2 linked regions of the Homo sapiens genome follow. The protein of the gene in region 2 interacts with the protein of the main gene of each other region in a biochemical or structural test. Each region holds a gene or a part of one and is shown on either strand. Other genes may lie near its edges. The genes, in order: EN2 and EIF4E.

Region 1 (4,314 bases), on a different chromosome or scaffold from region 2:
ACTCCCTCATGGCCAAGTGAGTCTTGTGCTCTCTCCAGGAGACAGGCCTGGAGAAAGAGGATCTGTGGGCACCACCTCAGGAGCACCAAGGGCAGCTTTTAAAGCAACCCATAGGCAGGCTCACCACCCATGAGAGCACACACCCTATACTTGGGCACCCACCCCATGCACACGTACACACTCAGTGCCTGTCTTGCTCACGCCCAGGGCTCCAGGCCAGTGGGCCTGGCTTTGGTAGGGGTAGGTGCAGATTTGGAGATGGGGTTGGCCCTCCGGAACGGTGGTGGGGGATGGGGCACAAGGCTCCAGGAGAGGCCCCAGCCTCCTGCTCCCAGAGCCCATCTCTGTCTGGGTTTCCAACCACTCCCTTCCCCAGAACTCTACCCCCAAACTCTTCTGGTCCTGGGGCTCTTGTTAATGCACTCATGAAGCAGCCCGCAAAAGGACACCATTTTATGGCAATAAATTTCCCTAAAATAATAATTTTTAGGTTTTTTTCTTGATTTTCTTTCAAAAGACAAATACTTAGGAGTCTCAGAAACAGAATCAAACCTCCCCAAGAAAACTCTCTCTCCCCTTTCTTTCGGAGAAACCAAAGAACAGAAACATTATCTTGCAGGGATATTTTAAAGCCCATGAAGATAGGCGACTTGGGCTGGGCTGAGCTGGGCCGGGCCAGGCCGGGCCGGGCGGTGCTGCCCAGCTCCCGGGCCGTTGGGGGCTGGCTCAGCGAACTCCCGCGCCGCACAAAGCCCGGCCGAGTCTCCTCGCCCGGCATTGTGAGCCTGTATGTTAATTAAATATTAACAAAGGAGGAAGACGAGAACAATGGAGCAAATTTCAGATCTAGCTGAGAAATCTGAATTTCATCAGAAATATGCACGCATAGTTCTGCGGGATGGCGGCCCAAGGGTTGGCTCACTCCTGCTGTGATCTGGGCAAATGACCCCCGCAAAATAGTTGAGGGTTTGGGGGCAGCGGGGATCCGCTGCCAGCTCGGGGTCAAACAGTCCACTTCTAATGGCGGTTCCCAGCCGCAGACCCGCATGGAATGCAGTTGATGATTTCTACAAGGACATGGACTTAGTTTTTTAAAATCGCAGATCTATGAAAAAATATATCCAGCATCTCTGCAGGGCCCCTGCGAATGCTGCCTCTTTCCCATCAGCAGCCCCCAGGAAACCCTGAGAGAAGGTCCTTTCTATTTGGGGATGGCAGGTGCCGGGAGGGACGGCTGCCTCCCTTGTCCTCGCTGTGTGCAGGAAGGGGGCTGAGCCCCACCACTGCGGGCTGGCGCTGGCAAACAAAGTGGAGCCAAGGGGAAAGGGCGCCTTTATTTTCCTCCTTCCCTGTGTGCATCCTCCTGAGTCCCACCGGTCAGCGCAGGCCCGAGGGGCAGAAGGCAGAGCGGCAAAGGGCCTCGCCTTTTCTTCCCCGAGCACAGCCGGGATAACCGGATGGTAGGACAAGTCTGGGGTGGGCTGGGGCATGCGTCCCCGGCCTGGCCTGAGTTGGAAGATCGTAGGGAAGGGGATGAGAGTGTGCACTTCCGGGCCCATCTTCCAGCCACCACGTTCCCACCAAAAAAAACTACAGTGGGGGAGACATGGGCTAGGGGCTGGGAAGAGATGCGCCAAGGCGGGGTGGAAGACAGAGAGGGGAGACAGGGAGAGAGGAAGGAGAGAGAGAGACAGAGAAAGAAAGAAGGTCCCTTCTGCGGTCCTAAGAAGTCTGTACCCCCTAGCGAATCAGTCCTGCCGCTGGACTCCTGGCCGCTGCCCGGGCCGGCGTCAGCTTCACACAATGTCGCGTGAGTCTTTGTGCGTGTGCGCGGGGGAGGTTCGAGATGTTTTCCTCCCGGTAAGTTCCCGCGCCAGCACCGCCCCCCAGCTCCGCGGGCCTCCCCGCGGCGAGCCGGGACGCGTGGTCCCCGCGGGCTCACCTGAAGAAGGCCGGTCCGAGTAGCGCGTACAGTAGACCCACGCCGGCCAGAGCATGGGCTGCGCGCCCAGGTTGGCGCCGGCTTGCGAGCTGTCCGAGTCCGAGCTCACCGACAGGTCGCCGCCGCCCAAGCCGCGGGCCTTGAGCGACCCGTCCAGGGGGCCGCCGGGGTCGCCGCCTTTCTTGGCGCCACCGTGCAGCGAGAGCGTCTTGGAGCCGCCTTCCCCGTCACCCGGAGAGTCGCTGCCGGCGGCTGGGAGCGGCCCGCCCGCGCCGGGCGCACATGGCGGGTTCTGCCGGGGCTCTCGGGAGCCCGAGCCCAAGAGCTGCTCCGAGCCGCCCGCGCCGCCGCCTCCCTCCGCACCGCTCGCGCCGCCTTCGCCGCCGGCTCCGCCGCCCCTTCCTCCTCCCGCGCCCGCACAGCAGGTCCCCGCGTCCTTTCGCCGGCCGAACTCGGGCCGCAGGATGTTGTCGATGAAGAAGTTGGTGATGCGGTGCGGGTGCTGGTGGTTGCCGGGCGCCTGCAGGACCGCGGGCAGCATCAGAGCCCGCCGGCGCCCGGTGTCCGCTTCGCCCGGGCTGCTACCGCCGCCGCCGCCCGAGCCGCCGCCGGGGCTGGATTCCGGCTGCCGCTGTCCCTCCACCGCCGCCGCTGCTTCGCCAGGCTTGGGGTCATTCTCCTCCATGCTGTTCACAGTAAATCCCACACTGGTTCTCCGGGGACGCCCTTCCAAATCAGCCTTCGGCCCTCCCGCGGCGCACACGGAGACCCCCGCGCCCCCACCCCGCCGAGTCTTCCGAGGGCGTGCGCGGCGGCCGCGGCCAGGGCTGAGGTCCTACAAGTCGCCGGCCGCGCTCGGCGCGGAGCCACCTTTGAATCCACGAACTGGGTTAGAAACACCACGAGCCGCCCCGCTCGCCCAGACGATGAGAGATTCAACAGAGCCAAGTCCTCGACTTCGCCGCGCAGCCGGGGTCTAGACAGTCGCAGTGGTCCGGCGGGGACGCGGGCCGCCTCCCGGGCTCCCCGCTCCTCTCCGCGTCCGGCCGCCTCGGGCTCCGGCGCCGCCGCCTGGGCCGCCCGGGGCGAGAGCTGCGCGCATGCAGGCAGCGCGTTCCCCGGCGCTCACGCCCGCCCGGGCCGGCTCCGGCCGCCGCCGCCGCCCGGCCGTCCCCGCCCGCACGCCCTAGCCGGCCCTCGAGGGTGCCGGGCGCCCGCGGTCAGCGCGCCCGCCACCGCCCGCACGCACATGGAGGCCCCCTCCTCGCGGCCGCCGCCCCGCTGCGGGCCGGGGCGCCCCACCGGCGTGCGGCCGCGCCCCCGCCGAGCCCCGCAGAGCTCCGCGGCCCGAGTCGCATGGGTGAGAGACGCGAGGCCAGGGCCCGGCCGGGCCGGGCTGGGCCGCCCGCGCTCCCCGGCCGTCCGCCGCCCTCGCCGCCTCGGCCTCCGCGCGGGCTCGGAAATTTCCAGGCCACTCGGCGCAACCTGAGACACTTTCACTCTGGATTTTTGTTCTTATTTTTAACAGAGCCCCCTCGAGTGACGTCGCAGGCCGGTCTCCTGGACACGTGCCTCGGGCCAATGGCCGCGGCGCCGCGCGCCCACGTGACGCTCCGGCCGCCGCTGGGTGACAGGAGCAGCCCGCCGCCCCTCCTCCCCTTAAAGCGGCCGCGTCCCCCGCTCCGGGTGCGGGAGCCCAGGAACCCGGAGAGACCCCCGACCGCGTCTCCTGCGCTCGCCCGCGCTTTCCCTGTCGCTTCGCGGTTCAGGGGTGTGAGTCACCCGGCGACAGCCCCGCCAGGTCACCCCGGGGCGCGTAGGTGGACACGCACAGGAAGATCGCTATTTTTAAGATTTCCATATTGTTTACCGTGGGGCGAAATCCCACAATTCCTTGCACAAAATGCATAAATAATATTAAATGAGCTGCCGAGATACAAAGGGACTTTTGTGGTCCGCTTTCCTTGCTGATGGAGAGGAATAGTGTCACTCCCATTTGACTCGGTAACCCGGCAGCTTCCTGTCTTAAACGCAGAGCTGGCGCGCAGGACACTCCTCCTGCAGACACTTATTGTAAGTGTGCGTGTGTGTGCGTGTGCAGGGAGGCGCGTGCATACGGCCGCATTCCACCCGGGGACAGCGACCCTCATGAAACATGCTTAGCGATCCGAAAGAGCGGGGGAATGCAGTATGCGGCTCCATTTGCGAAGGGAGAAATCCAGGAGCCTCGGAGGTTCTAAAGGAATCCTTTTTGCCAAGGAGAGGAGGGGTGACTGTTCAGCTAAGACTTCAAAACCAAGTCGCCCGCCCCCCTCTAACTTCTCTACTCTGATTGAGGAGCTCCCAGACCGGTCATCTCGTTTTCTTTGTTT
Region 2 (3,809 bases):
AGCCGAGATCGCGCCACTGTACTCTAGCTGGGACAACAGTGAGACGCTGTCTCAAAAAAAAAAAAAAAAGAAATAAATGAGTTAATATATGTAAAGCATTCAGTGTGGTACTTAACATAGAATAAGTGCTATGTGTAGCAATTACAAATAACGATCTTTCTACATTAAAAATAGCTGTTACAAACAAGGTATGTTTATAAGGTTTTTTTAGTTAGTTGCTTACAACTATAAATCCATATCCTTAATTCCATATCCCTATAAATCCAATGCTGGTTAGATTTGTAATGATTCCACAAAAATTTACTGAATATAGTGTGACTAAACTTCATTTTCCTGTTTTTTCTTTTTTCTTTTTTTTTTTTTTTGAGAAGGAGTTTCAGTCTTGTTGCCCAGGCTGGAGTGCGATGGCAGACATAGGCTCACCGCAACCTCCACCTCCCAGGTTCAAACGATTCTTCTGCCTCAGCCTCCCAAGAAGCTGGGGTTACAGGCATGTGCCACCATACCCAGCTAATTTTGTAATTTTGTTAAGTAGAGACAGGGTTTCTCCATGCTGGTCAGGCTGGTCTCGAACTCCCGACCTCAGGTGATCCGCCCACCTCAGCCTCCCAAAGTGTCGGGATTACAGGCGTGAGCCACCACGCCCGGCCCATTTTCCTACTGTTTCTATGGAATAATGTATCAAAAGTTCCAACTGGGGAAACAAAAAAAAAAAAACCCCTTATATTTCTGACCACATTCTCAGGTTCCAGAAGTGCCCAGAAATGACTATTAGTATTTTAGACACACACACACACACGCAAAATCATTTTCTTTTTCTTTTTTTTTTTGGTGAGATAGGGTCTCTTTCTGTCACCCAGGCTGGAATGCAGTGGTGTGATCACAGCTCACTGCAGCTCTGACCTCCCAGGCTCAGGGGATCCTCCCATTTCAGCCTCCTGAGGCTAGGACACAGGTGTGCACCACCATATTCAGCTAATTTTTTAATTTTTTGGAGAGACAGGGTCTCGCCATGTTGGCCAGGCTGGTCTCAAACTCCGGGCTCAAGTGATCCTCCTGCCTTTGTCTCCCAAAGCCTCGGATTACATGTGTGGGCCACCAAGCCCAGCCCCTTTCTTTTTCTGGAGACATGATTAGGGACTTTTGAAGGAACACTAGTGATTTTTATGGTAGGGATAGGAGTGGGAAGAACATCTTAGGATTGTGAATCACAGGCTTTGCATTTCTTGCTAATGGCTAAGGATTGATAATTAAAAAGCAGCAATGTGAATTTCCAAGAAAAGAGGGAAAATAGTATGTAAATGCATGGATATACATGAGTATAAAACATTCATGGAATGTCAACTTTAGTCCCTTACAGTTGACAAACTGTCACCTTTGAATACTGCATTTAAAAATTGAAATCACCGTAATATATCTTATTCCGACTTTCAGCTGACTTAGAAATTTCAGTCTTCAAGATCACTCAGATATTAAGATGAGACTATAACCCATGCTCATTTCCACTTCTCAAAAAAGTCTCTATGACTAAGATGGTGCAACTCACCGGTACTAATAGATTAAGGAAACTTCTTTTGTTTATTTTTTTTTTTTTTGAGACGGAGTCTCGCTCTGTCACCCAGGTTGGAGTGCAGTGGCACAATCTCAGCTCACTACAACCTCCGCCTCCCAGGTTCAAGAGCTTCTCCTGCCTCAGCCTCCTGAGTACCTTGGGATTACAAGCACGCATCACCACGCCCAGCTAAGTTTTGTATTTTTAGTAGAGGTGGGGTTTCACCATGTTGATCAGGCTGGTCTCAAACTACTGACCTGGTGATCTACCCACCTCGGCCTCCCAAAGTGCTGGGATTACAGGCATGAGCCACCGCACCCGGCCCATATTCTTAACTTTATGTAAATTAAACAATATTTTACTTAAATGTTTTTTGCCTACAGTTTTCTGTCCAAACTAGAGTAAGCTTACATAATTCATTTTGCATATTATCCCTCTGCAACTTCTGTGTATAAACTGTGTGTCTACATTGAATTTCTCTAAGTCTAATAATCATGCTCATTAACTCAGATTATAAAATGAAGTGTGAAATTTGTTTCTGTTTTTTTTTTTATTCTTTTTGATGGAGTCTTGCTCTGTCGCCCAGGCTGAAGTACAGTGGTACCATCTCGGTTCACTGCAACCTCCACCTCCAGGTTCAAGCGATTCTCCTGCCTTGGCCTCCCCAGTAGCTGGGATTACAGGCGCCTGCCACCAGGCCTGGCTAATTTTTGTATTTTTAGTAGAGACAGGGTTTCACCATTTTGGCCAGGCTGGTCTCGAACACCTGACCTCAAGTGATCCCCACCCGCCTCGGCCTCCCAAAGTGCTGAGATTACAGGCGTGAGCCACCGCACTCAGCAAGTATATTTTTTTCTTTTAATTGAAGAAATCTGGAATATGAACCCCAGAGCCAAATTTACGTGGATTATCGAGGAACTCTGATATAGTGGGTTCTTTCATTAAGCAAAAAGTCCACTAATTTGCATAGTCTGGTTGGCATTCAATTGTTCATTAATATGAATTATATAGTACAACAAATATTTGTCAATATGTATATAAACCTTATTTACTCTTATTAATAAGCTGTGTAGTACAGAGCATGTTTCCAAAGTATAAAAAAGGAAGCATTAAATTAGCTGATTGTCCAAGTTGATTCACTTATGAAATTAGCGTGGTTTCAAAAAATTCAAGAGCTACAATGTAAAAACAAGTAAAATTATACACTTTCAGTTAAGCTAAAGAAATCAAAATTAATCTCTTACCTCAAAAGGAACTACAAGTCAAAAAAAAATTTTTTTAATTCTAATAATGAACGATGTAGAATGAAGATAAAGCTACAAAGAAACACGACCTACTGGAGGTAAGATGGCCTTGCCATTTTCACAGACTAATATTAAACCTAATTTTGACCCAGCCACAATTCAAATGCCGATAGAATAACATCAGAGTACCGTTTGCCCTAACGTTCAAATTTTTGCCAAATTATCCGTTAAGAGGTAAAATGTTTCCCTTAATTTTCCCTTTCAAGCTTCTCAACAAATTTAATATTTGTGGGCCACATCTTCATGTAACTCAACTCATACAAAGAGAAAACCACACAATAATATCAAACTGAAAATGATATTTTATGTAATGTCCATAGACAAAAATCATCCAGATACCTATGCATGATGGGATAAGCAGGAAAAGCCCATGGCTCTTTTTAAGTGTTTATGATTATGCACAGCAGAAAACCATTATGGAAGCTCACAAACTAGCTGAAGTAAGAAAAAACATGATTTTTGCAGCCTTCAGCAGGGGTATCTCAAGTACAATCCAATTCTAATCAGTTGCTTCAAAAAAAAATCCAGGCGAGGCTCGGTGGCTCACGCCTGTAACCCAACATATTGAGAGGCCAAGGTGGGAGGACCACTTGAGTCCAGGAGTTTGAGACCAGCCTGGGTAACCATCGCGAGATTCCATCTCTACAAAAAGTTTAAAAATTATCCGGGCGTGGTGGCCTGCTCCTGTAGTGCTTGCTACACCAGAGGCTGAGATGGAAGCATCTCTTGAGCCCAGGAGTTTGAGGCTGCAGTGAGCTATGATCGCGCCACTGCACTCCAGCCCCAGCAACAGAGCAAGATCCTGCACCCCTACACACAAAATCCAACTATTTAAAACTGTCAAAAATAATTCCACATAACTAGCCTGTGCACAAGGGTATATTAAAAGTACTAAAAATTTTCAGGCCAGGCGCGGTGGCTCATGCCTGTAATCCCACCACTTTGGGAGGCCA

What was found.
Region 1: the proteins of EIF4E (region 2) and EN2 form a complex in vitro, tested with the Homo sapiens proteins (one study listed by BioGRID).

The regions. Positions count from the first base shown.
Region 1 is NC_000007.14:155,456,691-155,461,004, reverse strand, and holds the start of EN2 (homeobox protein engrailed-2), read right to left. Parts: upstream 2,877-4,314; 5' UTR 2,628-2,876; coding exon 1,943-2,627; intron 1-1,942.
Region 2 is NC_000004.12:98,922,501-98,926,309, forward strand, and holds part of EIF4E (eukaryotic translation initiation factor 4E), read right to left. Parts: intron 1-3,809. UniProt on the Homo sapiens protein: Acts in the cytoplasm to initiate and regulate protein synthesis and is required in the nucleus for export of a subset of mRNAs from the nucleus to the cytoplasm which promotes processes such as RNA capping, processing and splicing.